6 separate regions of the Homo sapiens genome follow, and all the other regions are reported to be linked to region 1. Evidence: microRNA targets listed by miRTarBase, many of them from high-throughput screens and not tested one by one. Region 1 holds a microRNA gene; each other region holds the end of a gene's coding sequence.

Evidence for each region. The annotated mature microRNA hsa-miR-34c-5p reads AGGCAGUGUAGUUAGCUGAUUGC and lies in region 1 at 1,646-1,668, shown strand. An mRNA with a match to its seed (bases 2 to 7 or 8) in the 3' UTR can be bound and repressed. Matches are read on the target gene's strand: a 7mer-m8 pairs with bases 2 to 8, a 7mer-A1 pairs with bases 2 to 7 and ends in A, and an 8mer does both.
Region 2: the mRNA of SLC4A2 is a reported target of hsa-miR-34c-5p. Seed matches in the 3' UTR shown: 7mer-m8 at 4,486-4,492.
Region 3: the mRNA of GMFB is a reported target of hsa-miR-34c-5p. Seed matches in the 3' UTR shown: 8mer at 1,261-1,268.
Region 4: the mRNA of NEUROD2 is a reported target of hsa-miR-34c-5p. Seed matches in the 3' UTR shown: 7mer-m8 at 3,290-3,296.
Region 5: the mRNA of TJP1 is a reported target of hsa-miR-34c-5p. The part of its 3' UTR that is shown has no 7-base or 8-base seed match.
Region 6: the mRNA of CLIC5 is a reported target of hsa-miR-34c-5p. Seed matches in the 3' UTR shown: 7mer-m8 at 574-580 and 7mer-A1 at 1,792-1,798.

The regions. Positions count from the first base shown.
Region 1 is chr11:111,511,806-111,516,877 of GRCh38, forward strand. It overlaps MIR34C (microRNA 34c), which reads left to right and starts at 1,634; the gene lies at 1,634-1,710. It overlaps BTG4 (BTG anti-proliferation factor 4), which reads right to left and starts at 581. Exons shown (of 5, transcript NM_001367975.1): 1 at 376-581. HOATZ (HOATZ cilia and flagella associated protein) reads left to right here and starts at 2,973. Exons shown (of 6, transcript NM_001100388.2): 1 at 2,973-3,205; 2 at 3,706-3,747; 3 at 4,235-4,305. The coding sequence starts at 2,980. It overlaps MIR34BHG (MIR34B and MIR34C host gene), which reads left to right. Exons shown (of 2, transcript NR_147706.1): 2 at 1,213-2,083. It also overlaps MIR34B.
Region 2 is chr7:151,075,911-151,080,982 of GRCh38, reverse strand. It overlaps SLC4A2 (solute carrier family 4 member 2), which reads right to left. Exons shown (of 23, transcript NM_003040.4): 22 at 4,797-4,970; 23 at 4,460-4,696. The coding sequence ends at 4,616. It overlaps FASTK (Fas activated serine/threonine kinase), which reads left to right and starts at 174. Exons shown (of 10, transcript NM_006712.5): 1 at 174-298; 2 at 1,061-1,483; 3 at 1,962-2,141; 4 at 2,282-2,421; 5 at 2,891-3,104; 6 at 3,203-3,362; 7 at 3,582-3,673; 8 at 3,747-3,882; 9 at 3,956-4,070; 10 at 4,151-4,359. The coding sequence starts at 217. The coding sequence ends at 4,258. RefSeq lists silencers at 1-439, 3,902-3,981 and enhancers at 1-854, 855-1,831, 2,808-3,783, 3,784-4,759, 4,760-5,072.
Region 3 is chr14:54,473,443-54,478,514 of GRCh38, reverse strand. It overlaps GMFB (glia maturation factor beta), which reads left to right. Exons shown (of 7, transcript NM_004124.3): 7 at 356-4,030. The coding sequence ends at 427. Among named protein-coding and RNA genes, the nearest start is that of GMFB, 13 kb to the left of the region's middle.
Region 4 is chr17:39,601,129-39,606,200 of GRCh38, forward strand. NEUROD2 (neuronal differentiation 2) reads right to left here. Exons shown (of 2, transcript NM_006160.4): 2 at 2,640-5,072. The coding sequence ends at 4,323. Among named protein-coding and RNA genes, the nearest start is that of NEUROD2, 4.3 kb to the right of the region's middle.
Region 5 is chr15:29,696,913-29,701,984 of GRCh38, forward strand. TJP1 (tight junction protein 1) reads right to left here. Exons shown (of 28, transcript NM_001330239.4): 28 at 3,240-4,777. The coding sequence ends at 4,683. Among named protein-coding and RNA genes, the nearest start is that of LCIIAR, 25 kb to the left of the region's middle.
Region 6 is chr6:45,898,508-45,903,579 of GRCh38, reverse strand. CLIC5 (chloride intracellular channel 5) reads left to right here. Exons shown (of 6, transcript NM_016929.5): 6 at 325-5,072. The coding sequence ends at 492. Among named protein-coding and RNA genes, the nearest start is that of CLIC5, 110 kb to the left of the region's middle. RefSeq lists enhancers at 815-1,659, 1,363-2,562, 1,964-2,652, 4,160-4,713.

The DNA.
Region 1 (5,072 bases):
GTCTCACCTCCTCTGGGAACCTTCTTTGACCTATTACAGCTCTCATTGAGGACCTCCCTTCTATTTCTGATACAAATAGTTTCTACTATTCTAAATAGTCCCTAGTTTAGTAATTTATTATATATATACTGTCTTGAATGGTATGGCCTTGATCTCAAGAGGACCACGATTTGATGTAACTAACAAGCTGCCTGGCTCACTATTTGACTAGAAGGCCCAGGCTTCACATCACTGCATGGCCCTCTAAGAGTATAAGGCCAAGTCCCCAACAGAGCACAGAGGTGCAGATGAGACTCTCCAAGCCATCCTCCCATATGTCAGAGGCTACCCAAGCCCACCTCCATTTGGAAAATTCAAACCTATAATTTGAGGTACCTGGGAAGCCGCTTTCCCAGGGCGGAATGGTCACGGAAACTGGGTAGGCTGGGGGCCTTCTTGGGGAATGAGGGAGTGGAGGAGCTCTTTGTCCCTCCTGCTAGATCAGAAAGAGAAACGTCTCAAGAATCTGGGCCTCCATCTTCTAGGCGTCTCCCTTGGAGGCCCTTCAGGGACCGCCCACAGCGCTTTCTCTCAGCCTCCTCCCCCCCCCCATCCCCTCCCCCACCCGCCCCGTCTCGCGCCCGCCCCGCCCCTCGGCCCGCGGGGTTCCAAGGACGGTTGGTCGCCCCCGCCACAGTCACTCGGCCGCTCAGAGCGGCGGGGCGCACGGGGTCGAGAGAGCCAGCTCTAGGGTTTGGGGCTGGGAACTGAAGCCTGGCGTGAAGGAAGTGGGAGCCCGGGCCGAGGAGGCGAAGGGGAAAGGAAAAGCGAGGGGAACCTGAGCGGGAGGGCCCTGAGAGGAGCGGGAGGCTGCGGGAAGGGGAGGCCTGGCACTCCTGGGGGTCATGGGGGTCGGGGCGCGGCTCCCGGCCTGGGAGGGCGCGGGTCCTCCCCGGCAGCGCCGCCCGCTGGCCCAGCTACGCGTGTTGTGCGCTGCGAGGCCGGCGGGGGTCCCGCTGGGCCCGGGGGTGTCCTCGGGGGCCGCTTGCGCCCAGCCATGGTAGGGCGTCCCCCGGTGAAATGGGGTCCGAGGCGGGCCCCGACCCCGCGTCGGCGCTGCGGACCGTCCGGGAGCTGCAGCCGCGGGTGCCCGGTGCTCGGTTTGTAGGCAGTGTCATTAGCTGATTGTACTGTGGTGGTTACAATCACTAACTCCACTGCCATCAAAACAAGGCACAGCATCACCGCCGCCCGGCCGGGAAGAAGACGCCGGCTCGGGCAGCCCGCAGCCTTCGAGAGAAGATGCCTGAGAAGCGCGGCGTCGGCGTGGGTCCTGCGCAGCCTGCCCCGCGAGCGCCCGCTGCAAGTGCGAGGAAACCCGCGGTTTCTCCAGATACAGTTAAACTGTTAGCTCTCTCTAGGAGTCACAGAAGATGAAACAGTCTCATGCCAGGAAAGCAAAATCCCTGGAGGTGAAGCCCCTCCATCCATGTAACGGTTAATACTGTATGCTGTGATTCACTGTGTCTATTTGCCATCGTCTAGTAGAGTATTCACCAAGCTAGCAACTCAGTTGAGCTCCAACTCAACCAATGAATTGCCTGCCTGTCACAACGTGTTGGGGTACCAACTTGAGACTGCAATTTTTTCTATGAGTCTAGTTACTAGGCAGTGTAGTTAGCTGATTGCTAATAGTACCAATCACTAACCACACGGCCAGGTAAAAAGATTTGGGAATTCGTCCAAATGAGCTGCCTGTGCATCATCAATGTGCGTGGGGAAGAGGGGTGTTGGAAAATGCTGATTTCATCCATTGCCTATTAATTGCTCAGCCAAAAGAAAAAAATCAACATTTCAGCTACTAAGTTTACAATGTATGTAATGTGTATGTATGTGGGGTTTTGTTTTGTTTTTTTTTCAATATTCCTTCAGGCTCTTAACCAAAATTTTAGATATAAGGGGGAATATGATTTTTTTCTTAGCTGACTGATGTATGTTATTATATGAACATGTGATTATTAACTTCTTGAGACTATATTGTTAGTAATATTTTGAAAGTAATATTGTTAGTAATATTTCGAAAGAATAAAGTGCCATAAAGACATAAATTGTGGTTATTGCTATGTGTCCATTTCCTTTGCTAAATTGACTTTATGATGTCCATCTCAGTTCCTGCCACAGTAATCTTAACTTTTCTATCAATGAAGTGGTTAAGTTGTTCCTGCCATGACAAAAATCTCCCGGGAAAGCTACTCATACACACAGACTTGTTAATACTTTTATAAGAAATACATTAACAAAATTTTTCATACTTCTTTTTTCCATGAAGAGACTCTGTTCACTCATTAAGATGTATCCCTTCTTTTAAGTAATCATTTACAACTGTTGGAGTCTATGCAACTTTTAGTGGGAGTGATTAGTAAATGCACTTACACTTTAAATCCAGCTTGTTTCCTAAGATTTAAAGGATTCAGAATTTTAAAATCACAGAAACTGTACACATGGGCACGTATCCGCCCAGTTCAGGCCTCTAGCTCCCAAGGGCTAGGCTTTCAGGCGTGAATTCTCCAGCGCAACGTTCTCAGAACTTCCACCTAGCAGGTGCTGTCCCTGGCAATCTGGTTTGGAAGTGGGGATTGGGGCAATGGGGCTGAGGAATTTAAAGTTTATTTAGCTATCTTTCTGGGGGGAGGGGAGAGGATGTGGCAGCCCACTGAGGATATAAGAAGCTAAACTACTCCCCCACTGACTCCGACAGGACACAACCCAAAGTTGACGTTTTGACTCTCCCATATCCAAGATTTGGACTGGTCCTAAAACCTGATCACCGCAGGGGTGGGCTTCCGACGGCCCCCACGCGCGTGGCGGATCCCAACACCTACCTAGGAAACCGAGGGCAGCCGGCAGGGGCTGGTACCAACTTGGCGGTTCTCGGAGGGGCGGGGCAGGGGCGGGGCGGGGGGAGGGGAGAGGACGCTTGCAGAAGCGTCCTCAGTTGCCATGGAAACGGGACCCAGCGAAGAACCTAGCGGCCGAAAAGAGTCCCAGGAAATGTGCCCCCCGGGATTACTGGTATTTGCTGGCTCCTCGGAACAAGATGCCAACTTGGCTAAGCAGTTCTGGATCTCGGCGTCGATGTATCCCCCTAGCGAATCTCAGCTGGTGCTGCGCAGAGACAGCAGTCAGCGTCTGCCGGTGGCGCGGCCCAGGAGGAGCAGAGGGTCTGGTGAGTAGAATAGCGGCCTCCTGTCAGTCATATCTGCCTCACCGTAACTGGCCTGCAGGTACCAGAGCCCTTTCCAGGAGAAACTGCAATGGTATATACAAATAGTTATAAGTACATACAAATGCATGTATAAATATTTCCTGAACCCTTCCAGCAACCCTTCCACCCGAAAAGGATCAGTGGTATATATGTTACATCTAAAAACATATAAGTTTCCCTTAAATTATGGCATCTATTTGGTAAACAGTATAGAATAATCTGAGGAAATGCTATGTGTTGGCTGAAAGGATAGTTTACATAGTTTAATTCAAACATGAAAAGCCCTGGAGAAAGATGAAGGTGGAGTCAACATTACCAATGAACTTCCTGGACCTGTGAGCCCTTAGTGAGGCCTAGGATGTGGAAACTGTTATGCAATTGTTATAGTATAAAAAATTCAAACGCCTTTAATGTTGTTGACTTTTCCAATGATTTCTTTACTTCCCTTTTGTATTTTTTAGAAAACAGCCACTCCTCGCAGTCTTTTCACCTTGCGAGTAACAGTAAGTACCAAGTTTTATGCCTTTCAACATTCTGACTCCTAGGTTCATCAGAAAATAGACAATAAGTACAAGGGTACTACTTTACACTGTGGTATAACTTTCTGAATTGAACACCTAAGTCCCTGCTCAGGGACCACCCTGTTTATCCAGAGGACAATGCCTAAATTCCTTTAACAGTTTGAACAGGAATGTAGAAATTGGAATCTCTGATCCTGCAGATATGCTCTCTTTCGAGACTTTTTCTTGTCTCTGGACTCGAGCTTACTCATCATCTAAAGAGATTAGAGGTTCCCTGCAGCCATAGCTAATTAACTCAGTCTCCAGTTGTTTGCAAATCTGGTTTGTAAAGTTCCAATACACCACATGTATTTTTGTTTACCTTCCTACTCTATGTATTCCCTTTCAACCCATGTCCAATTTTATATCAATTTTAGTATAAAATCATAATAAAATTATTTCAGATTGAATTTGACTTTATTCCCTCTAGAAAATAGAGACATCTTTGCCGAAGCCCTAAAGATACAGGAATCTGAGGAGAAAGTAAAGTATCTCCAAAAGGTAGGCCAATATTTCAGAAGGTCATCTGATCATCATTAAATTTCTAAATAATCTTGATTTTTTAAACACATGTATATTTAAAAATCTGCTACTTCTAGTGCATCAGCTTGAGCAAATTAAGGAAACCTTTATTAGAATTTTAATTGAAAATTTAAAAATTCTATTCAACATTGGCTATTATCAATCTCAGCAAAAGTCCAAGAATGTATAGGAACAACAGAACCAGAGAGAAATAGAAAGAGGTAGAGTCACACACTTTCCATCCAGTAAGGTCCCCAACCATATACAGTGTTCTAAGAACAGAAATAGCATAAGAGGCCAGGTGCAGTAGTACACACCTACAATCCCAATGCTTTGGGAGACCTAGGCAGGAGGATCCCTTGAGGCCAGGAATTCAAGACCAGCCTGGGCTACATAGTAAGACCTCTAACTCTACAAAAAAAAAAAAAATTTTTAATTTGCCAGGCCTGCTGGTGCATACCTGTAGTCTGAGCTACTTGGGAGGCTGAGGCAGAAGGATCCTCTGAGTCCAGAAATTCAAGGCTGCAATGAGCTATGATCTCACCACTGCACTTCAGCCTGGGCAGCAGAGTGAGACACAGTCTTAAAAAAAAATCATAAGAACAGGAAAAATCAAATAGAATTAATTGTCTTAATAGGTCAAAATTAAATGATCAGAGGAATGAGTCTGTCATCTAGACCTGTTTTGACTAAAGGCTGGAATTAAACACATTGGTGTAGTCAAATCAGCTGAGCACAGTTCTCTT
Region 2 (5,072 bases), not on the chromosome of region 1:
CCCTTCTCCCCAGCGTTCTGCTCTGGCTTTGGCGCCGGCCTCCGTGGCCCCGCCCTCGGCGCCGGGCGCGCACTTCCCGCGGGCGGGGCTCGCGGCTCCCTGGCTCGCAGTGCCTGCCGGGAGCCACGTCTCCGAAGACCGATAGCTGCTTCGGGATTGGCGTCCGGGCGGCTATCTAGGGGCTGCTGGGAAGATGGCGGACTCGGTGGCTAGCCGATGAGGAGGCCGCGGGGGGAACCCGGCCCCCGGGCCCCGAGACCGACTGAGGGAGCGACCTGCGCAGGGCCCGGGGAGTCATGTAGGGGTGGCGCCTGCGGGGAGGGCTGCGGGAGGGCAGCGGGAGCTGGTGTTAGCGGCAGCGGCCACGGTCTCCTGGCGTCCCTGGGCCGGGGTGGGTGTTGGGGCCCCCGACTTCGCCGACTCCGCGCCATCGCAAAGCGGTGCACTCGGGCTCCACGCGCGCCCTGCGAGGTGGGCGCTGCGTTTTCATTTCACGGGTGAGGAGACTTAGAGAGACGAAGCCACTTGTCCAAGGTCACGCCGCTGGTGAGTGGGAGCGCCCAGCATGGAACCCAGCACCGTCCAGCCGCGGAGCCCGCGTTCCACCCTCTGTGCCGCCGCCGCCTCCTGTGGGAGAGGGAGGTGGTCGGGAGAGTGCACGCCGGTGCCGCCTGGGCTCCAGACTGGGCGCGACCACTAACCCGGTTAATGACCTCGGGCTTAACTTAACCCCTTCGCTGCTCTGGGCCTGCGTTTCTCCACCGGTGAAATGAGGTAATGCCAGCCCTGCCTACTCTTCATGGGCGTGTAAGGAGCATCAGAGATGGTGCATGTGGAATTGCTTTGCAAGTAGTGCTGCGCTGAGCGCACTGAGGATTATGATTGCTGTTTCAAAGGCGTGGAAGGAGGCAGAGGGGCGGGGTGGGGAAGAGGCCCAGAGCAGTCACAAAGGCTTGCTCTGACCACAGGCCCCCTAAATGAGGAGTGAGGTAAGCAGTAGGTAGCAGGTCTTTCTCCCCTTTGGAGAAAACCTCACCCCCTTTTTTGGGCTGCCCCTCAGGGTCTCCATCACCCAACTCCATGCTTCGAGTCCTGCTCTCTGCTCAGACCTCCCCTGCTCGGCTGTCTGGCCTGCTGCTGATCCCTCCAGTACAGCCCTGCTGTTTGGGGCCCAGCAAATGGGGGGACCGGCCTGTTGGAGGAGGCCCCAGTGCAGGTCCTGTGCAAGGACTGCAGCGGCTTCTGGAACAGGCGAAGAGCCCTGGGGAGCTGCTGCGCTGGCTGGGCCAGAACCCCAGCAAGGTGCGCGCCCACCACTACTCGGTGGCGCTTCGTCGTCTGGGCCAGCTCTTGGGGTCTCGGCCACGGCCCCCTCCTGTGGAGCAGGTCACACTGCAGGACTTGAGTCAGCTCATCATCCGAAACTGCCCCTCCTTTGACATTCACACCATCCACGTGTGTCTGCACCTTGCAGTCTTACTTGGTGAGGAGGGGCTTGAGGTGGGCGCCTGGGGGGCTAGGTGTTAATGAAGAATAGGGAGAACAGTAGAGGACCACGGACAGAGACCCAGCCTCTCAGGCGTTTGCCCAGGAACGCTTGCTCCTGCTCCCGTCCTATGTCTGCGGCAGACATCATGAGTCGAACGCACTCCTTCCGGCCTCGCTAGGGTGCCACCCCAGATTCCTGCTAATAGAGTGCCCTAGGAAGCCACCATAATTTGTCACAATTGGTATGAGATGAAAGCCTATTTGCCATCTTTGTATGTACTCCCTACAAACCGTTTCGATACCTCATAGCCACATGATACTTTACATGTCTCTAGTGTTTGCACTTAAACTCTAGCACACCTTCCCGCTCAGGAAACGGGAGAGGAGAAAGGTGGAGAATTCACCAAGTAACCCCATGATAAGAACAGCAGCACAGCTCTGTTACCAGGCTGCCTTTTACCTCTCCCCCTCAGGCTTTCCATCTGATGGTCCCCTGGTGTGTGCCCTGGAACAGGAGCGAAGGCTCCGCCTCCCTCCGAAGCCACCTCCCCCTTTGCAGCCCCTTCTCCGAGGTGGGCAAGGGTTGGAAGCTGCTCTAAGCTGCCCCCGTTTTCTGCGGTATCCACGGCAGCATCTGATCAGCAGCCTGGCAGGTGCTGGAGGGGGTTAAAATCAGATGGGGGTGGGGAGGGCTGACAGGAGGAGGAAGGTGGGCTCAGTTGGCTGGGCTGAGGTGGAATTGAGCCAGCCGGAGGTCCGGCTGAGGCCCAGCGTGACAGGCTGCTCTTCACAGAGGCAAGGCCAGAGGAACTGACTCCCCACGTGATGGTGCTCCTGGCCCAGCACCTGGCCCGGCACCGGTTGCGGGAGCCCCAGCTTCTGGAAGCCATTGCCCACTTCCTGGTGGTTCAGGAAACGCAACTCAGCAGCAAGGTGGGCTTGCCACCCACCCTCCAGTGCATCTCTGTCATTCTCAGGGACCTTGTCAGGCCCAGCGCCTCGTGCAGCTCGGCTATCCTTTTCCTGAAGCAGACACACCCTCTCTGTCCCCTGGGACCTGCATCTTTTCTACACCCTTTCTGTGGCTTGCCCACCTCCTGTCAGCAGCATGCATTCCTGGAAATCTGCAGTTTCCCAAAGCACTCTTAGCAGCATCCTAGCTCCACCCATCCCTCTCGAAGTCTTCAGGGCCAGACCCCACAGCGATGTCCCCTCTGCCTGTCTGGTGATTAGTCACGTGCAGCTCGTGACTGCTTTGCTGTTGAACTGTGAGGCCGGAGGGACTGTCCTGTCTTTACAGCAGTGTTGTAAACCTGAGGGCTAAGCCTCTCTAAGGCTTAGCTTGTAAAAGATGACTGCAGAAATACTTGACACTGGGTAATGAACTGCTCTTCCTCCACAGGTGGTACAGAAGTTGGTCCTGCCCTTTGGGCGACTGAACTACCTGCCCCTGGAACAGCAGTTTATGCCCTGCCTTGAGAGGATCCTGGCTCGGGAAGCAGGGGTGGCACCCCTGGCTACAGTCAACATCTTGATGTCACTGTGCCAACTGCGGTGCCTGCCCTTCAGAGCCCTGCACTTTGTTTTTTCCCCTGGCTTCATCAACTACATCAGTGGTACGCAGCCAGGATGGCTGGCTGGGCCCCTGAGGGCTGGAGAGGCAGGGGAGCAGGGTGGCCTGCAGCCCAGAGCCCCAGTCCCCGCCTCCCCACAGGCACCCCTCATGCTCTGATTGTGCGTCGCTACCTCTCCCTGCTGGACACGGCCGTGGAGCTGGAGCTCCCAGGATACCGGGGTCCCCGCCTTCCCCGAAGGCAGCAAGTGCCCATCTTTCCCCAGCCTCTCATCACCGACCGTGCCCGCTGCAAGTACAGGTGGATGGGGCAGCCTGGGGCAAGGGGAGGGGCCAGCCTGGGACCAGCAGAGTGGAAAAGCCAGAGGGACCATGAAGCGCCAAAGCTAAGGAGCTCTCGGCCACCATAAAACTGGGCCCTGAAGCAGCAGAGGGCTTTGCCCAGGGTGGTGGCACTAGACTGGGACAGATTAGGATGAGGTGCCGGGCCCTTCCTGCTACTGGTGTCCTTTCTCCTCAGTCACAAGGACATAGTAGCTGAGGGGTTGCGCCAGCTGCTGGGGGAGGAGAAATACCGCCAGGACCTGACTGTGCCTCCAGGCTACTGCACAGGTGAGCAAGGGGCAGGCGGCAGGCCCGGGGAGACGGAGCCCTGGCTAAGGCCGCCGGCCCTGCTCCCCTCCAGACTTCCTGCTGTGCGCCAGCAGCTCTGGTGCTGTGCTTCCCGTGAGGACCCAGGACCCCTTCCTGCCATACCCACCAAGGTCCTGCCCACAGGGCCAGGCTGCCTCTAGCGCCACTACTCGAGACCCTGCCCAGAGGTAAAGGAGGCAGGGTGGGGGAGCCCTGGCCACCTTGCCCGCCATGCCCTGAGCCACGTCCCTCCCCCTGCAGGGTGGTGCTGGTGTTGCGGGAACGCTGGCATTTCTGCCGGGACGGCCGGGTGCTGCTGGGCTCGAGGGCCCTGAGGGAGCGGCACCTAGGCCTGATGGGCTACCAGCTCCTGCCGGTGAGTGGCCCTGGCCTGGCCCGTGGCGCATCCTCACTCCCAGCCTGCGGGTAACCTGCCGCCCTCTCCTCTCCCCACAGCTACCCTTCGAGGAACTGGAGTCCCAGAGAGGCCTGCCCCAGCTCAAGAGCTACCTGAGGCAGAAGCTCCAGGCCCTGGGCCTGCGCTGGGGGCCTGAAGGGGGCTGAGGGGTTGATGTGGGGTTCAGGATGGCCCCCCCATGGGGGGTGGATGATTTGCACTTTGGTTCCCTGTGTTTTGATTTCTCATTAAAGTTCCTTTCCTTCCCCGTTGTGAATCTCAGTTTTGGGACGGGGAGCAGAGCTGAGTCCCCCGCCTCTTCCATTCATGCCCCGCCCCCCATACAAAGACAAAAGGCCACAGATAGGTGGGGGCCAAAGCACTTTACTGCAGGGGCAGTGGGGGAGGAGAAGACTTTAAATTATTCACTTAAATAAAAAGGAGGGAGGGGCATGGGAGGGGGAACCCCATCCCACCAGCCTGTCCCCTCGTCCATCGGTCCCTCGGCTGTCCCTCGGTGGCGGCTACACAGGCATGGGCATCTCATTGTACTCGTCCACACCCTCCCGCTCATCAAACACCGGCTCTGCCTCGTTAGCATCCAGCTGTGTGTGGGGAGGTGGCGGTCAAGAAGGGAAGTGGGGGGGCCTTTCCAGATCCACAGGGAGGCAAGAGGAACCGGGGGAGGCAGACGGGAGGGCTTACACATTTCATCTCTCGGTCGGTGAAGATACGGGTGAGCACCACCATGCGGAGCGGCACTGTGAGGATGAGGATGAAGGGGAAGGCCAGGGAGGCAGCTGTGGACATGACGGCCCAGAGCAGGGCCAGGCAGAGCAGCTGCAGGGCCGTGAACAGGTGCATACGGAGGGTCCGGACCTGGGGGGCGGAGACAGGTGAGCCCAGCTTCCTCCCTAGCCTGCTGCTGGGAAGAGCCTCTCTCTTCTTCGGAGGCGGGGATGGAAGAACATTCCTAGGTGC
Region 3 (5,072 bases), not on the chromosome of region 1:
TTGTGTTTACTTGGGATGTCTTCTAGGAGATAAGATTTACAGAACTGCTCTTTTAGACTATTTGTAGATTTGTGCTTTTGGGAGAGTTTTGGTTTCATGTTGTCTTGATTGCTGTACTTTGGTAACTGAGTACTTAGCATTTAAAAGAAGTGAAGTTCTACCTAAAAGGTATATCTCATTTACACAGGTTAAGTCATGAACAATATGAAAGGAAGCAGAATTTGGTATTTAATACTCAAATATATAACCAAAAATAGTTTGGTGTATAATACTCAAATATATTTTAAAAAATTCAAATATTTGACTTTTTTTTTGGAGTGTCAAAGTATGACCCAAGTTTTTTTTTTTTTTAAAGGTATTTGAAATAAGAAATACCGAAGACCTAACTGAAGAATGGTTACGTGAGAAACTTGGATTTTTTCACTAATGTGAACTTCTGTGTTTCTAAAGTATTTATGTATTAACCTGACCATACTGGAATCAGACATAAATACTTATTTATGCCTAAAAATGCACTGTTACTTACAGTTTGTTTCCTGCAGTAAAGAAAAATTCTTCATTTGTGCAAAATTTGAACAAAGAGGAAATCATCTTCATAGTAATGAAACTTTGTAAAGTGTTTCCTTATATTGGTAATTGTTAGGTGGACTACTTTTCTCCAGGGACTTTTTGCACTCTTGTGACTAATTTCTATAACTTATGGTTCGGAATTTGTTACTATTTACAGACACCATTGGAAAGTGGATATATTAGATTGTGAGAGACAACAGTTGCCTCCTTTTGACAAATACTGGATATTAGCAGTTTATTTATGAAAATAGCGTATTATCACTTGTCAAATCATTGAAATTCATTTGGGGTCAAAGACTTGAGTGACCCAGTATTGAGCCATGAATAATTTAGTGTAACCTGTATTACAAGTACATTGATGAATTCTGTATCTTCTTTGGTTTCCTGTATCTTTTTAATCAAGTCTAGAAACTATGTTCATCAGTCACTCATTTTTAAGGTCGGGAGTTAGATTTTATGATAGAATTATGACTGTTAGCTTTTCTCCTTATAGCATCTTAGTCTTAGAAATTGGTGGGTTGTAATAATCAAGGGCTTCATTCCTTTTATGTCATTTCTAGACAGTTTTGAATCTAGGTTAATAACACTTTATTTATAAAGCACCTCAATGTCCTGTGAACACTAATTATTTTAAATGTGTTAATACTGTGCCTTTGATTTGTTAGCTTTAAAGTTAGTTTAAGACTTTTACACTGCCAGTATTCCACATTTGGTGAAATTAATACTTTTTTAAAGGGTCCAAATAAAATAATTTTCTAATGTGTATATCTGAAATTTGTAATAAAATCAACTTCATATTTTAAAAATTCCAACTATCTGCTTGCATTGGTGAATATATGGCAGTCGAGAGTTATAATTTTGGGTATACTTGTGGTTAGTTTTGTGCCATAGGAAAAAATTATCTTAAAACTTTGGCCATAGTTAATAACATTAACACTTCAATAGCAATCACATCTTATATCCTAAATGTCAGAAGATATTCTGAACTGGATGCCTGAATAGTTAACTAAACCAGTCTTGTTAGATGATGGTACTCTTGGCATAAAGCGAGGATTCTGATATTTGGCATACTTGTAAAAACAAATACATAAGTAACCATTGAACATTAATTTGATAATAGGTCTAGAGACTCTAAAAACTAACCAAACTTGGTGAGTGTATTCTTATATTAAGAATATCTTAGTCATCTCAAAACTAGCAAAATTTAAATTTTGGCATGTTTTCCATTCATATGTTCTTTGCATTTTATTTTTGAGGTTTCTGTGAGAAGTAAAGATAGTTGGAATTTTTGCGATATTGAATAGAACATCTTCTGTTCCCAACACTGTTTGGCTTCACTAATTTAGAAGTCAGGAAGCAATAGAAAGTTGGAGATGAGGAAGTGCTAGAGTAGGTGTTTGTTTTGGTTCTTGGAGGGAAAAGATTCTTTATTCCAATTTCCAGAGAGAAGAGAAAACTCACCCAGGAAGTTTAAAAATTCTTTAAACAGGTATTTTGATATTGGAGAATAACATGCATATAATTCTGTAGGAATGCACATGTAATCCAAGTGAGTGGAGAGTGTTTTTAATGTTTTTGAATGAAGGAAATGAGGTTTTGTTTCACCTGTTTTGCAGCAGTAAGAGAAACTAGTGCTGCAAGAATGTATTTTTTAATGAAGTTCCTTATTTTGTCTTGCATGTTTTAGTTTTGCTTATTTTTAAATTTGGAGGTCCTCCATAATGTCAGATAATATTGACCTGCCATACGTTAGCACTCTTAGTTCCGCTACTGTCTTTAACAGGAGCAAAGAGCTGTGATAAACCATGCTTTTTTGAGCTTGTCTGACTCCTAATTAATAACATGTTTTTGGCAAGACAACAGATTGAGGTTAGAGGATCAGTAGGACATTTTTATTCCATCTGTCCTATGGGGAAATTTACAAATCCCGTGCTCTAAAATGTTCTCAAACATTTATATAGATTTCCCTTTCATCTTACTAAATTTTGCATTGTTCTTTTCAAGTATGTTTCGTATTTACTGTCTTTTTTTCTGCCATTTCCCAAATAATAACTCCAGATTTCATAATTCCAGTTTTTACATTCCGTTATCTTTCTGGTACAACCATTCCCATTCAGCCTTAAATCTGAGTCCTTTTTAGCAGCAACTTTTTTCCTGGGATCCTCCTTCGTGGTCTTCTAAGTCAGTGTTAGTTTTGAAATTTTTGGCCCTGCATAAGTTCTGCATAGCATCTAATGTCAAAATAGAACCAACTGGTAATCACAGTATTATTTAGTGTGGTTTCCATGACAACAAAAATACATACGAAGAAAACTTCTCAGGTTACTATGCTGAAATTCCAAAATGTCTGAGTTTTGAATAGTGATCACTTTGTTCTGGTATTGACGCAATTATATTAGGAAAAAAGTTGGTTGACTGTTTTTGTTTAATTGACTTCTAAAATGTTCAAATTGTCTAGTTCTAAAAGTTTACTAAATGCCTAGTGCAGTTAAACATACTCTTGTTTAAGTGTGTGTTGCTAAATTTTTTACTGTCATTACTAAATAATCTGTGTGGCAAAATGTGTGTCAGCACTTTTCCCTCCTTTTTTATCTCCTATTTTCAGGAGTCAAATGTAGCCATAAACTGTATCCTTGTCTGACACTTTAGCTAAAAATTTCCAGTTAGGGGAGTTTATTGCCAAATTAAATTTGGCTGTTCCCCCCAACCCATATAGATATTAAGGAAGGTGTACTTAAAAAATGTTTGGACTGCTTTTAAAACCTGAGCAATGTCATTAATCCATATGTGGACTAGTGATGAATAGATATTTTCATAAGAGTTTAAATGCTGATATTTGGTGGAAGTAGAGAGTAACTCATATTCTATCAATTCAAGTATTCTTACTATGGTTGCTTTCCCTATTTGTTCAATAGACTGATAATACTGGAATTTATAGAGTTTGAGCCATTACAACTTTTGTGAGGATGTGTTTCAAACATTTCTGGACAAATCTTATTTTGTATTTCTGGAAGAATGTAGTAATCTTCTAGACCGCTTAAAACCAATGCTCCCAAGCTGAATATTCTTGAGAAATTTGTTTTTATTATGCCATTTGACATTTCAAATCAGTGCTCATATACAGTAAACTTGTGATAGAAATTGTATTTTATTGCTTTTTGGATTATAATTCATATAAATATAATTACTTGAATATTGTTTGAGATCATTAACATGCCAGGGCAGTTCCCACTGATTTAGATGGTCCAAGATAATCTCATTCAGGAGGCTTGAAACATTAATGGTTTAGTCTTGTGAATTTTAACAGTTCTCTGTCATCGTTTAACAAAACCAACAACTGACACAACTCCTTAAGCTGTGGTTTCAGTCTCTGCTAGTTCATATTGCATGTTTATTTTGGACAGTCTTTTGTTAAGCATGGTGCTTGTACTGGTTTAAATAAAATGTTAACATTAAAAGACTTCCAGCTTTTCTTTTTTTACTCACCTCTTTCCCCCTTTGGAGTTACTGGTATGTACCTGGCTAGATTTGTGTGAGCCATAAACTTTATCTGGACAAACTGAGAGGCAAAATAAACAAGTCATTTGGCAGCTTGGTGGAAGGAGAAGATAATCAAGTTATAAAAATTTCTAAAACTTGGTCTGATGCTAAAATGTAGAAAATGTCAGTAAACAGTAGTAGGGACAGACAGAGCTATTTCAAACAATGAACGCTTGCTTTCAAAGGGAGAATTCGAAGTTAGGAGAGCTGTATACTTCGTAAGAAATCAAATTGAAGGTTTTTTTAATTGAATATAGCTTATCACTATGTATTAAACACCCATTGACAACCCGTCCTACCTTTATTACCAACTGTACTATATGGTATATGTTCAATAGGTATCTACTGAATGAATACAAATCACTAATAACATAGTTTTTAGAGTTTGCCATGTACTTGTGATTGTGTATGTTGTAATAGTCACAATTTGTTATGATGGTGAAAGGAGTAGTTTATGCCTTCCTGTCTTTAAGAATTTCACAAGGAAAATTGGCCCAAGCATGGGAACATTTATATCTTCCTTATTTATCAAATTTGGCCACTTAACCTACTCAAACAGCCAGCTCTTAAATTTTTTCACCTTCACTAAATAATACCTATTGTCTTTTTGTCCTTTTCACTTTTCAGCAGCAAGAAGCATTTGTAAGCACTTAGCCTCTGAACCTGGGCGCACTCTTGTAACCACCCAATGGGTTCTCCTTGCCTGCTGCCCAGACAGAGCCAATTTATTAAGATAGGAGAACTGCAATAAAGAATTTTTAGGCCTGGCGCGGTGGCTCACGCCTGTAATCCTAGCACTTTGGGAGGCTGAGGCGGGTGGATCATGAGGTCAGGAGATCGAGACCATCTTGGCTAACACAGTGAAACCCCGTCTCTATTAAAAATACAAAAAATTAGCCGGGCATGGTGGCAGGCACCTGTAATCCAAGCTACTCGGGAGGCTGAGGCAGGAGAATGGCGTG
Region 4 (5,072 bases), not on the chromosome of region 1:
CCTCTTTTTCTCTGTCATCTTCCAAATGCTGGACTTGGAATGGGGTCTGGAAAATCAAGAGGAAGATGTCCTCCTGATTGAACTTGGATCCAGCCGTCGGGTTCAGCGGCCCAGGGGTTGAGCTGAGCCGGCTGGTGGACGCTTGGAGAGCCTGCCGCTGAGGCTAGGGCAAGAAGGGCGTCCTCTCTGTGCCTTCTCCCCAGGCCAGGCACAGCGCTGGCCCCTTTCCTCCTCCCTCCCCTGCTTCTGTTCTTGGAGCATCTCTGGGTGTGTGTGCGCAGGCGGGAGAGCAAGCAAGAGAAAGAGACCTGCGAGGGGACGTTTGGGGCCGCTTGTCCGCGCACATCTTCTTCTCCTGCTCATCACACCATCTCGCCAGGGAAGTTGAGCACTGGGGAGGAGGGTGATGAGAGGCTAGAGCCAGCCAGAGTGCAGGGAATGTGGGGGGAAGGGTCAGAAATCGGGAAAGGGGCGACTGGTGTGGATGCCGGGATTCACCAGAAGCTGAGTCACTCGGGGGGATTTCTGTCCCAAAAGGGACCTGTGCACCCCCACCCAATGTGATCACAGCTCACAGAGGCCCAAAAGTCATCAGCATCTTTCTAAAAGGGCTGGAATCTGGCTTCAAAAACAGAATTGAGCCACGTAGGGTAGCTGAAGAACAATGCATAGAAAGAAGTCTGTGGTCTGGCCAGGAGAGCCACATGGAGGGGTCCTTTGCTTCAGGCCCCAAGCCACCTGGATCCCGCCCAGCTCTGGACTTCTGAGCGGGTTCTAGGAAACTGACTGAGTAGGGGAGAAGCCCAATTAACCTTGTTCTCAGGGCAGGATAAGAATCAGGCCTCGGGATAAGTGCCAAGTTCCTTTTCTCTGCAATTGCCCCTGCCAGGCCTTGCTCCACGCCATGAGTGCAGATCAGACTTTTGCAGGTTAGGATCTGGGGTATGTGCCTTGCTCTACACTCCCTGCAATAAGTGAGGGGGAAGGAAGATGGGCCAACTCCTTTCTTCCATGAATAGGAGTGATTCAGAGGTTTCTAAGATGCTGAAGACAGGGACACATCCGGGGGATGAAGGCCCTAGTCTGTGATCTCACTCTAGAGAGGCGATGCCGGGAGAATTCCAGAGAAGGCAGTGAAATTTTGAAAGAATGCTGGTAAATGTTCTGAAAACTGCTGGAGAATTCCAGTGCAGCATTGGAAAGGGCCTCCTGCTCCATGTTCCCCTGGGTCAGGCAAATGGACCTCCCTCTGCAGCCAGAAGAAAAGACACTAGACGAGGGTCAGCATGCCACAGTGGACAGCTCCTGGCCTTGGCGCCTCTGCCGACAGCTGTCCTGACCACCGGGAGGGTATTCTTTCTACTGGGGGACAGAAGAGGTTTGAGGACAGACATTTAGGGGATGCAATGAGCTCAAGTTCAGAGTATAATTTGATCCACCCTTCAATATATAGGACTTCCTTCTTCAACAATCTTTCCCTTTCCTGCTTGTCAGGGAGATATTATTTTGGGTTCTTGGACCCAATCTTTAAAAGCCTTTGCATGCCTGACCTTAATCCTCAACCCCAACACTACAAACCCCACTTCAGCCCTAAAATGAGTCACAGTGTTTGGAGAAATCATTTAAATGAGCAGCATCAGAAACAGCCTCTTTGGGGGACTCCTAAATGTGTTCAGGCTTTAGGATGGGAGTCTTTGGGGCTCAGAACCCTCTTCAAATATTCTAGGGCTACAGCATGCACTGAGGGCTGAGCAGGGGGAGTAGGAGGGACTCTATCAGGGAAGTCAGTTAAGAGCTGCCCCTGCCTCTCAGGTTCAGAGAAAAAAGAATTGTGAGGCCACATTGTCTGAGCAGGAGATGCTCACCCAGTGCCCTTCCTCCCTTCTAAGCCCTTAGGGTTCCCTCTGTTCAGAACTGTACCAGACAGGAAGAAATCAGCCCAGATTTGGACTGGGTGGGCGCCTGCTGCCCTGTCCCAGGGAGTACATGGTTAGGCTCCTCTCTACTGGGTGGGCGCCCAGACTCAGCCACCTCACAGACCTCTAGGGGTGTTCCTCCAACCTTGTCCACACCCCTAAACATGTCAACATTCCTGAGACCAAAATGGCCGATTCCCCTGAGTCCACCGAAATACAATTTTAAGATGAAAAAGGGGCCTCCCTCATTAATATTTCATCTTCATGACCTTATAATGTTTTGTTTTGTTTTGTTTTGTTTTGTTTAAAAATACCCCTGTCTGATTCAAATGGTTGTCTCTTTGTCTCTGCCCACTTGCTTTTTGCAACAGTGGGCAGAGAGTTGTAAAATGACTGGCTGTTCCCAACTTGATCATTTTTCAGTGATGAAAAGGTATTTTGTTTTCAAGGGAGGTGCCTGTGCATGTTCAGGAATGAAGAAGTGTAAGGATATCAGTGCTTTAGTGCTGGGAAGGTGCGAGCCTGGGTTGGGTCTGGGAGGGGTAGCTAGTATAGCCCAGTGGGTGTATGGGGGGTGGTTAGGGAGAGAATACTACCCAAGAATGTCCAGGGTCCCTCTGTTTGGCCTCTGCACAGTCACTTGACACTCTGCCTTCATCACCCCAGCCCCAGCTCAAACCTTCTCTCCCCCCTCAATGAAATGAGGCCACCGTGAGAAACCGGTCCGGCTTTGCATCTCATTTACATAAATATTTATTAATCGTCATTAAACTGAACAGAAACACGCAATGCACTTCGGGTGTCCGACGGGAGTTTCATCTTCGCTACAAGAGGAAGGTAAAATTGCGTGTGTGTGGGTGAGTGTGTGGGTGTGTCGCCTGTGGGATTGCATTTTTGCATCGTGTATTTGGATGCCTGATCCCCTGCCTCCGGTGGGCAGAGGGTCTCCTTTTGCCCCTTTTTGGGGGAACCTCCAGTAGGAGCCCTCAGACCTCTCCCCGCCCACCCACCAGCTAAAGCCAAGAGGACTCCTTGGACCAAAAAATACTCTCTCCAGACACCGGAAATCGCCAGGTGGCACCCACCGAGGCACAGTCCGGGCAGGGGTGGGGCTGCCCCCAGGTCTCCATCCCCACCCCTCACCCCAGGAGGGGACAGAATGGCCGCGGGGAGGAGGAGCCGGCGAGCTCACCTCCTTCTGCCCCCCGGACGCCGGCGCCGGGCCTGCTTGTGCGTGCGGTGTGGTGTGCGTGTGTCTTTCATGCAAACCCTCCCTCCCCAAACCGACCCCCCAACAGTTTGCCATTCCATACAAATTTGGAAACAGGTTTTTAAAAAACAGCATGACGCACAACGGGGACGGGGCGGGGGAGGGCAGTGGCACTGGGGCCCCAAATCTCCGAGTCACTGATTGTAAGAACCTGGGGAGGGGGAGGGGGCGGCGCGGGCCCCCACTTCACCAAAGTGCACAGATCCGCGCTCGGGCGGGGCGGCCCGCAGGCCGGGCGGGGCATCCCGGGGCCGGGCCGGGCCGCGAGGCTCAGTGGAGCCTCCTTGCATAGATATTTGTGTCTTTGATTATTGGTAGTAGTGGTTTTTTTTTGTTTGTTTTTTTGTTTTTTGTTTTTTTTGCCTTTTATTGCTTCTAAAAGTCCTTACTGCGTTTTCTCTCCGATCCGGACTCTGCGTTCGGCTTCCGTCGCCTCTTAGCTTTTTTTTTTTTTTTTTTTTTTTTTTTTTTTTTTTTTTTTGTATGTTTGTTTGTTTAAAAAAAGGAAAAGGGAAAAACGGATTCTAGTTACAAATTGTCTTGGCCTCTCTCTTTCCTCTCAATCCACTTCCCCTCCCGCCAAAATTAAAATCGCAAAACGCGGAGACTGGAGGTTGGGGGTGAGGGCGTTCCAGGCCCGGGCTCCGGCGCCCTAACTTCTACCCTCTTCAAGAAAGAGGGAGCGCCTGGCTCCTTTTTGCCTCGGCAGCTGGGTGTCTGTTTTTAAAATAATAATGAGAGGGGGAAACGCGTTCCATTGCTCAGCTGCCCCCTTACCAACGCCTTGGGCCTGCAGGGAGGAGGGGGAGGAGGAAACCTCAGCGAAGATATTGGGAATGGGGGAGGGGTGCCTCCAGGGAGCCCCCGGAGAGAGGTCCCTGGAGAAGCACTCCTTGGGAGAGAGGAGGAGGGAACCCCTTGGGGAGAGAGAAGGCGAGTCCCCTGGGGGAAGCGAGGCCCCTGGGACAGGCCACCCACAGGTAACAGGACTGCGCTGCCCCAGGAGAGCGGCAGGACCGGTGGCCCGCTCCCCGCGCCCGGCGCCGGGGTAGGATGGGGGTGTCCCTGCGCTCTGGGGGCTGGGGACAGGGGGGCGGGCAAAGGCAAAAGAAAAAGAAGGGAGCCGGCGCGAAGTCTCAGTTATGAAAAAACGCATTGAGCTCCTCGTACATGGGGCCCCGGTCGTGGTGAAGGTGCATATCGTAAGACAAGAGATTCTCCGAGTGGACGCCCCCGCGCACAGCCGACGAGCCGAAGACTAGCCCGTGGCCCGTGGGCCGCGAACCGGGCAGCGCCGAGTAGTGCATAGAGTAGTGGTAGCTTTTCTCGTGGTCGGGCGAGGAGTCCTGCTTGAGTGAGAAGTTGCCATTGAGACAGAGCGGGGGGCTGAGCGGGCCCTCGTACTCGGAGCTGTTGTAGTCCGGGCTCGCGCCGCCACCGCCTGCCGCCGCATACAGCGTCTCGTAGGCGGCGCAGTAGCCGTGGGTCCGCAGGGCGTGCGCCGCGCCGCCGCCCAGGCCGCCGGCCGCCTGGCACTGTGCGCCCGCCAGGCGCGAGCACGGGTACGGGTAGGGGTGCATGGCGAACGGGCCGCCCGAGCCGTGGAAGCGGCCGGCACCGTCGGCGCCTTGCTCCGTGAGGAAGTTGCGAGAGTTGAGCTGCAGACAGCCGGCCACCAGATTGGTGGTGGGCTGCGACAGACCCTTGCACAGAGTCTGCACGTAGGACACTAGGTCTGGCCGCTTGCCGGAGCGCAGGATCTCCGAGAGCGCCCAGATATAGTTCTTGGCTAGGCGCAGCGTCTCGATCTTGGACAGCTTCTGCGTCTTGGAGTAGCAGGGCACCACCTTGCGCAGGTTGTCCAGGGCTGCGTTCAGGTCGTGCAT
Region 5 (5,072 bases), not on the chromosome of region 1:
AATGTTTCTGAAAGCCCTCAGCTTCCCACTACAACGGCAACCGCTGCTTGGTAGGTATCAAGACTGGGGCTGCTCCCTGGGTCTCAACCTTCATGCTTTCCACTTGGTTCCTGCTCATCTTCAAGCTGTCCTTATCCAACATGGAAGACACTCATTCTCAGAAGTGCTCTGGGAAACCCCATGTCCTCAAAGTCCTCTCTAGGAACCCCACTGCCGTCGTTCCAGCCGGTTTCTGCCACACCCCCACTGACAAGAAATGAAGAGTTGCTAGGGTGAATACTTGGCACGCCCCTCAACACTAAACAGCAGCAGCATACTGACCACATGTCAGTTTCCACATTTTCTTTCCTTCTCTGTTTTTAAGGGGGTATGAAATGATTTATACCTGCATGTTTTCAAATCCACTTAAGACCAGGAGGTGCTATGTGGACAAATAGATCAAACTACCTCAAAACTTTACGGTGACAATCAAGCCAAGGTAAAACACGCTAAAATCACCACCTGTGCACCCACCTCTTCCTATTTTTCCGCGGGTGAGTGCCAGAGGAGGGCGTTCCACATGGGGGCTCTAGTGCGTCTCACGAGGTGCACTTCTCTCATGCACCAAGTGAAAACCTTACACATCTTCCCTGCCTGGCATTGCGCCAGTAGGCAGAAAACTTGGTGCAACAAAACTCAATTTTTGTCTTTATTGGCACGTGGTTTCCTAGACAACTATGGACACAATTCCCTCAGAACAGCCTATGGTGCAAAGGGAGGGAAGGGAGAGTGTCAGAATGTGGAAGGCTTGTCGTAGTTGGTTACAGACCTCTCTTCTGAGCACCTTGTTTGTGTCAACTTCTGGCTAACCTGAATGAACACCCATCAGCTGGGAGAAACAAGCACTAGGGGGCACCTTCATGGTCACTGGTAAAGAAAGCCCTAATTATCTACAAAATGGAAATGGAAAACAAACATTTAAAGTTTTATGCATTTTAGTTTTGAACTAGAAATCTTCCAAGTTTAATATATACCTTCCTAGTGAATTCCCCTGCCAAAAACAAACAAAAAACCCCTCCCCTAAACCAAATGGTATTCCTGCATCTTGGGCAACAGCTCCTTCACTGTCAAGTAGTTCCAAAGGAAAGCACGAGTAGGTAAGAGTCAAAAATGCCACTGAGTTTTTGCTGTGATCAAATTGATCAGGAGACAACAATGTGGTTCTGTAAAAATCAGCACATCAACAATGTGTCTTCCCACACTCCATCTGGGGAAACCCGGCTAAGCAGCCTGGAAACAGAGTGCCAGGTCACTCTCTACATGTAGGGCTGCTGGGCAGCCGCAGTAACGTGTGCCCGGATGCATCTGTGTACACAGCTCTCTGGTTTGCTTTCTGCAAATTGGACGGAAAACAGAGCCTGGCTTCCCATCCAGTAAATGGTTTTCAAACTGCGAGTCAAGAAAACCGAAAACTTACTCCCCATCTGCCTGCTAGGTGGCCTTCCTGCATTTACTGCCACATCCCTTCCTAGCCAACTGCTCCCTGTCTAGACGGAAGCCACCCAGTGTCAACGTCTGTGTCTCCTCACCTGAGTCATCTCCATCTGCTCAGTGCCTTGTGTACTGCATTAAGTACTTGCTCAGAGGTCAAGAGGAGGAACTGACTCACGCAGCATTAGTGGATGTTCACTAAGCCTTCTGTTGATTGTAACGTTAGTATAGGGGAAGGGCAAAAGCAGAATTCTGACCCTAAAGCTTGGCCATCTGAATGAACTCACTGCACCATGCTCAGTGCTGTGGGAAGATGGTTAGGCAACAGAAATGTCCTTAGGAAGGAGCTCTAGGTATCTACACCTGACCAGGTGTTCATGCCACATACTAAAAGGTAGGGGGACAAAAAACAGACTTACTGAGTTGTGTCCCTTTCACAATAAATTGTTTCCCTAATTTATCTAAATGAAAACTGTCTTATTTAGGCCTTATATATGTGTGTCTGTGTTTACAATAAGGACACATTTAAAACAGAAAACTCAACACCTATATCATACTACACATAAAGTTAACTCAAAGTGGATCACAGACATAAATATAAAACAAAAAATTCTGAAACTTGAGAAGTCTTTACACTTTGGGCTAAGTGAAGATTTCTCTTAGGATAGAACATCTTAGTGAAGATATGACAAAAGCATAATCTATGAAAGAACAAACTGATTAAACTAGACTTCATCAAACTGAAGTCAAGCGAAATGAAGTAACGTTTACACAAAAACCTGTACGCAAATGTTTATAGCAGTTTACTAATAATCTCCCAAACCTGGAAACAACCCAGAAGTTCCTTAACTGGGGAATGGATAAACAAGCTCTGGTACAGCCACACAATGGAATACCACCTGGCAATAAAAAAGAACCTGCAACATCATACATGAATCTCAAATGCATCATGCTAAGTGAAATAAGCCAGACTCAAAGGCAACATATTGTATGATTCCATTTATATGACACTGTCAAAAAGGCAACTATAGAAACAGAAGAGATCATCCTGCCAGGGGCTGGAAGAAGGGTTGAGTATAAAGGGGTACAAATGATTAGAGAAGATAAAGAAACTGTTGTATGTATTAACCGTGGTAAATAAACAGTATGTGTTTGTCAAAATTTGAACTATACATTTTAAAAACAGTAACTTACTCTATGTAAATTATACCTTAACAAAGATGAAAAAAATAAAATCCACATAGATGGATTCAGTCCACAAAGGTGTTTACTGAAACACTATAGCAATAATCCAAATGTCAACAGGGGTGGCAGTTAAGTAAGTAGGATGTCCACAATGGAATATTTATGCTCACTAAACCCATTTTCTTCCCCCAAATGTGGGTGACATTAAACAATGCCCGTGCTATTTATCTGGGGAATAAAACCATATACAAATGGTTACACGCACACACACAAACGCACGTGTGTCCCCATGCAGGGGTGTTTCTCCACGCAGGGGTGTGTGTTTACCCACAGGGGGAAGTCGGCCTGCTGCCTTCTCCCACTCTGTCTCCAGGTCCTTCTGCCCCACTTCAGTCTGAGCCCTTCAGATGAGCACTGCCCACCCATCTGTACATGCTGGCCAAGGGGAGAAATTCTGCATGCAACACCAGACGACGAGGTGGTAGGTGACGCTGGGTGATAGGGATTTGTGTGCAGGATTTTAAAACAGGATTATAAAGCTGCATGAAACTAGAAAACAGTGGGCAAACAGACCAAGCCAGCACTTTATTTTAAAAAGTTTTATTTTGGAGATTTAGAAATTTGAGATTTTTAATAACGGCAAAAGAAATTCAGTCACACCTAATGATTAACAGAATGTAGTGGTGTATTATCTAAACAGAAATCGTGCTGATGTGCCATAATAAATTGTCTATTAGTAAAAAAATACACTTTAGGGCACAGCATTGTATCACAAATTACAGTAGGGATACTTTGCAAGAATTTAATCAAACTAGAGAATTCTGAGTAACTGTATCTTTTAAATGCAGCACTTAAAAATGTAACAACTCTGTGCATCCTTTTTCTTAAAAAAAATGACCTTGCATGTGTCATAGAAACGCTGCTTTATTGCTGCAGAGGTCAAAGTTCAAGGCTCAAGAGGTACAGGAGAGAATACAAAGGTAGCCTTTAGAAACGTGGTCTTGTTTATGTATAAAAAAGGTAAAGTTTATAAAAGTTAATTTACAAACCAAGAACAAAAGTGGTATGCACGCATTATGTACAAGCATCCTTAAAACATCAAAATTTTCAAATGCATAGCCAGAAAGAACAGAAAACCACCACTGCCCCTTGTCAAAAAAAAAAAAAAAGAAAAGAAAAGAAAAGAAAAAAATATCCCCAAATCACACCACTATTTTCTTCTGGGTGATAACACATTTCTGAAACCACCAAATGCACAACGTACTCAGTCTTTGTCATGATACAGTATCTAGATAATGCACAAAAGCCATAAAAACTTAGTAACACAAGGAGAATGAGCTAAGAATTAAGAACATGAGGGTAAGGCATTTCTGCTGGTTAGTATGTCTGTGGTAATATGGTGAAGTTAGAGATCTGAAGAGGCCATGGAACCAGTCTCACATGCTTTTGTATCCTTCCCTAAGAAAAATGTGTTTTCATGTACAGTAAGTCATTGTCTTCACTTCACCCTCCCCCAGTTGTAAATCTCCTTGCTGTACATTTCTGTTAAATCCACAACACTGGTTATATATTCCAGGTGCATTTAAAAAATGTGTGCATATTACTTCATGCATAATAAAATAAAATGTGTACGTATGCTAGGCCAGGGCCATAGTAAAGTTTGAAACAGTGTACTTTGGAAAGAACAGACCTCAAATGCACCCCCATTTACTGGCTGGTATTTTAACGGAAATCAATATGTGAAGTTAAGCAGTGACGATAAAAAAATTACAAAAATCACAAAGCAAAATATCTTTGAACCTCTAGCCAATACCAACAGTCCCGTCAATCACAAACATGCAGTGTGTAGCATGTTTTCCGACCATGGTTCAGGGGCATGCTCACTCATCTTTATCAGTTCAAACAAATGCCTCATACTAACAAACTGTAGTATCAACTCTAAAAAAGGTATAATACTTGATAGAGTGGTTCCATTTAGATTAAGTTTAATCCAGTTTCACATTATTTAAGTTCCTATATTTCAAGAGTTAAAAGTGGTCAATAAGGACAGAAACACAGTTTGCTCCAACGAGATAATTTGGATCTCCGGGAAGACACTTGTTTTGCCAGGTTTTAGGATCACCTATGAGAGAAAAGAAGTTGATGTCATTTACAGTTCAGTAAACTGCTATCCGTAATGCTTTGCAATTATAGGGCAAATACGTATATTTAGACATAATTTTCTTCTGTTTCTTCAGCATATTGAATTTGTATCAAAACACATTGCTGTATTTCAAAGCAGATCTGCTGGCATCTAACAATTCCAAAGGTGTTTCACACTTCTAAAAAAATTTTTTTTAAAACGTTCTTTCTAACTCACACCATTAAGAACAGTTTTTTGTTTTTTGTTTTTAATTTTCAGACTTCTCCTTTATTAC
Region 6 (5,072 bases), not on the chromosome of region 1:
CACCATTTTTGTTATTCAAAATAGCTCTGGGATCATAATTGTGTAGGTAAATCTTTATATCCATCCATGATTATTTCCTGAGAAAAAATTCCTAGAATTTGACACACTAGGTCAAAGGGCAAATTATGTTTACTTAAGAAATTAAATTAAAACAAAACAAAAAGAAGACAGCACTGCCACCTTGCATTTCAAACATATCACTGATGGCCCGTGGTGATGCACGGAGGTTTCCTGCAGTGCACACACACTGGGACGGCCACTAACACTTTCTAATGATTTGTTTCATGCCTTCACACCACCTCTGTCCTGCCATCTCTGTTTTAGATTGTGGCCAAGAAATACCGCAACTATGATATCCCGGCTGAGATGACAGGCCTGTGGCGGTACCTCAAGAACGCCTATGCCCGTGATGAGTTCACCAACACCTGTGCAGCTGACAGTGAGATCGAGTTGGCCTACGCTGATGTCGCCAAACGCCTCAGCCGATCCTGAGCACAGCCATTTTGCCCCATCCCCGCTGCAGAAGGACTCAACCACTCCCCTAAGACTCCAGCTTCATAGACTCCTCTGTATCACTGCCTTGAGGCGCACTTTTTATAATCAAGCCTCATCTTGCTGGTATCATGGGAACTCCAGCCTGCTATCTTTCATGAAGGTCAGCACCATCCCTGGCCTCCTCACATAGGAATCTAGCAGAAATGATAGACACAGTCCACCTTTCGGCCGGCCAGCCTGATCTGGGCTCAGCATGTTTGGGGTCAGTCAGTGTTGGAGAGCCCACATATGGGATTGCCACTAGCTTCTTCTGCCAATATCAAAATACCTTCTCAGATGCTTTAGAAACATGCAACACCAACTCCTTTTCTACCCTCCTCTCCGTCCATACCTACAAGGCCAAGGACAAACGCCATCTTCATCCTTCTTAGAAAGAGATCTATTACCCCATTAGGGGAGACAGAGAGAGTGAATGGAGGAGTACCGAGCTGGCTATGGACTTGGGTGTCTGGCAAACACAGCTTCAGTCTCACTACTTCTGACACTCTGGTTATTGGGCACTAAGGGCCAGACTGGAAAGTCACTTGAGACACATTCTCAGTTTGTTGCAGTGCCAGGAATGCTGCGCTGCTGCTGCTGCGCACCTGGCCCATGCTGTCCCTGGCTTCCATGCCGTCCAGGCCCTGCCAGAAAAGGAAATTGGCATGCAATTCTAAACTGCAGTGACTGGGATGGGAGGGGAGGGGAGCAGTGTTGATGCCAAAATACCCACGGGGTCTACCAGCCATGGGGTTTGCTTGCTTAGGAGTAGTTGTTTCAGAGGTGATTACAGGCCTGGGTTTGACTGTGCTTACCAATGAGTGGTTTTTGAGCTATGAGAAAGTGGATGGGAGTGGGAGGAGGAGAGATGGGTGAAGACAAAAGAGTTCTTTATGAGCCTCGATGTTCCCTGGTAAACTTTTAAAAAGGCCTTCTCTCATGATCTAAGTCTTGGACTGGTGGCATCATGTAACTGCTAACCTTACAGTAAAAACCCAAGAATGGGTCAAAAATGTCTTCCCAGTTTCTCCAAGCTGCTTCTGGAATGCAGGTCTGTCGGCTGGGTGCTCTCCAGCAGCTGCTCCTGCCTGATTCAACTGTAGCCTGTAATGGGTAAAAGCCACATTTAGGAGGTGGTCTGATCATAGAACACCTTAGGAAGAAAGTCCATGAGACTTTCTGACTAGGAAACCATGTGGTTTGAACTTGAAGAAAAATGTAGACCCATCTGGGTTAATTTTCCTACAATCTGACTCAACTGCCAGGTGAAAAAAAAAAGGAAAAATTTTTAAGCTAATATTTCACTCTTTTGTCATTCTCCTTAAGTTTCATCTCCTAAAAAGCTTACCCAGCCTGAGCTTGGGGACCTGTGCAGAGGAAACTAAGAAAAATGCACTCATCAACTCCTTCTCCCAGTGAACGCCCGGTGAGAAAATCCATTTGCCACAGGCCCTTACCTTCAACAATCCCCCTTCTATAGTGTTCGCTGGTAAAGGGTGAGGCTCCCAAGTGCTGGAAAGCCCCTGGACTTGGCTCATTTCTCAGCAAGGGCAGGATAGCACGGGTCCTTTCCATAGAAATATCAACAAATTCTAACCCAAGCAATCCCTGGACCTACCTGCCTCCAGGGATCTCTGAAGAAAAAAAGTAACCCATTGATCAAATCAGAGGAGAGGAAGCAGGAGGTCTCCTAGAGCCCATTGAGGAAGAGGAACTTTCTCAGTAGGACACTTTATAAGCCTGAGAAAGCTTTGAAAAGGCGGAATGAGTTGATTCATTTCCACCTCAAAAGGAACCTTTCCAGGTCCCCCTGGAAATTGTGCCCTGGAGATGTTTAACAAGGAGAACTGGTGAGGAAAGAGTCCTTTTTTACTGTAGGGAAAAGCCCCAAACTGGCCTCCTGGGGGATGAGGGCTGAAATGATCCCGAAGGCCTTTTAATTAGTGTGAAATCCTGCTGTACTCAGAAATCCTTCCCCGAATTTACAGCACAGGCAGGATGACCTAAGAGGCAGTTTACTTCCCTGAGACCCACAGTTGGGCTGTTCTGGAAACACATCTGTGAATCATAGCCAATTGCCACAGAGAAAACAGAACCAAGCCTCCGGTGAGGCCACTCCACCCCAGAGAAGTCTGCAGAATTCCAAGGACTCGGATTGGATGTTCAGAATTCAGCAACTGGAAAGTCCTTAAAAACAAACAGGCCAAACCAAATCAATATTGCTGTTTCTAGATGTCCCTTCTGTGGTTGAGCTAGTTTTACAGAGATAAATATATTAAGACAAGGAGGTGGGGGTGTTATATGATCAATGATAGCCATTTGAAAGAGAGGGAGGAGTACAGAAGGAAGGCACTTCTGGGTACTTAATTCAGAAATTTCTTTATATTTCAGCACTGGATTATCATATAATGCAAGTGACTATGGACTAAGAGTTAGTTATGGTGTCTTATGACTAGATTTATTATGGTATATTAAAGTAACAATAATATTAATATTACCTTCCTTTTTTTTTTTGTTTCAAAAGAGATCTTTCTCCAGATGCTTCAGCCTGTCTGGCCTTCTTATCATATGTGCAGCACATCATGTCTCAGCAACAGTGTGGTGAGGTCCTTAGGTGTCCCAAGAACAACTCAGGGAGCACGGGAGGGTCTGCAGTTGGGACCCCACAACTATACAGCTATAGGGTAGGAGGCTTCCTTTTCATTGGTCCTGAATGAATACAAATCGCTCAGAAAGCATTTTGGTGGCACAGAAAGGGGATGTATTTGTGTTGAGATCTTATTTTATTTTGTATTTATTTATCTTCTTTGACTTGCACAGCACTATTGGGGGTGGGGGAAGCAGGGTAGTGGGAGACGAAGGCAGAAGCAAGAGTCAAACTCAGAATGACTGAGTTGAATTCACTGTCTAGTCAGCAATGCCTGCTTCTGAGTTTGGCCCAGAGAGAAGGTATTGAGTAAGATTTTAATAACTGTAAAAAGTAAGCTGGATAAGTAAAATCATGATGGATCCAAAGCACAGTTTCTTCATCTCCTGATAAAGAAAGTCAAATGCTTGATAAATTCAGAGTCACAGATGTGAGCATAGCTATATTCTTTTAAACGAGAGGTAGAGTGACCTAGCACTAAGCAAATGAGCTGAAATGTCGGAAACAGAGTCCATCAGCTTATTTGGCCACACGATCCCAAACTAGTTTTATCTTGGGAAATGGCCCTGTCCTCAGCATTCCCTTCTTGTGCTGGTGGGGCCAGTGAAGTCTTGATCTTATCAGAAAAAGGCCACACCAAGTGCGAGTTTTCCCAGGCTGACTTTCCAGGCCCTTATCAAATGAAACAACAGAAGCTCTTCACAGTTCTGTGCCCCATGGCCACTCCACAGACAGACAATACCAAGCATCTTAGAACTGTCATAAGATAGGTCATGCCTGAAATAGATCTTGACCATATGAGAGTCCCAGAAATCAGCAAGGCCTGGACAAATAGAACTAAGAGAGAGGCAGAGGCAGGAAGCTGCGGGTCTATCTTGTAAAGAGTTTAGCATCACTGTGAGAGTGTGTGTCTAAAATTAAATTAAACTAGAAGCAGCAGGTGAGTATTTGGTAAGTACTTCTGTGACTCGCCTCAATTCCCACTGGCCAGGGGCCATCTCAACTGCACGGTGAATCAAGATGCTGGTGTCATCCTCCTTGGAAAAAGGAAATGTTAACTCATGGTTAAAACTAAGTACAATGATTCCCAAGGGATCACTTTCTTATTTTTTTAAATGACATTAAGGAGAATCTTAAGAAAGCATCAGAGAAAGACATGTGCATGTGAAGCACCCTGATTCTGATGTTAGGAAAACTTAAGCGAACAGGACCTGCTGCACACAGCCCCATTGTCTTCTATCCATTTCTCTTTATCATTCAAATCAAGCAACATGTGCCCTCCTCATCAACACACATTCTTCCCCTTTGTCAGTATGCATCTCCCAGCTTAGTGTCAGGATACTTTCGATTCATAATTATGTATGATCCAAAGTGTGCATAATTTCATTTAACGTTAAAGAAATAGATCCAATTCCTTTCTTGCAACCAAAAATAAATAAAATACGTTGCCTCAATATAAGGTTTGGGCTATTCTGTGTTTCTATAGAAGCAATCTGTTTTTGGTAAAATGTACTTTTAAGGATCCAGTCATCTGAAGTATTTTATGTAGAGTTAGAGATTTCACAATATTGACTATACATATATTTAAAATATAAATTATCCAGCTGATGTTTGAATTTGTCTTACTTTCCTGGCCACCTCGTTGTCCTATTTTATAAGCTGGGGAGTTAACTAGCTTAACAAAAGATGCTTAGCTTTTGTAAAAGAACAAGTGTTTCATTTTACAAAGACACTCCAAATGATAGTTACTTGATTTTCTCGAGACCTTTAACTATGGTGATGAATAACAGGACTTGCTTTCAAGCCTTAATAAATGTAAAATGCCTTTTAATGAAGATACAGCTGAGTGTTTTCCTCATGAATCTGAACCAATTACCAATTTGTGTTCCAG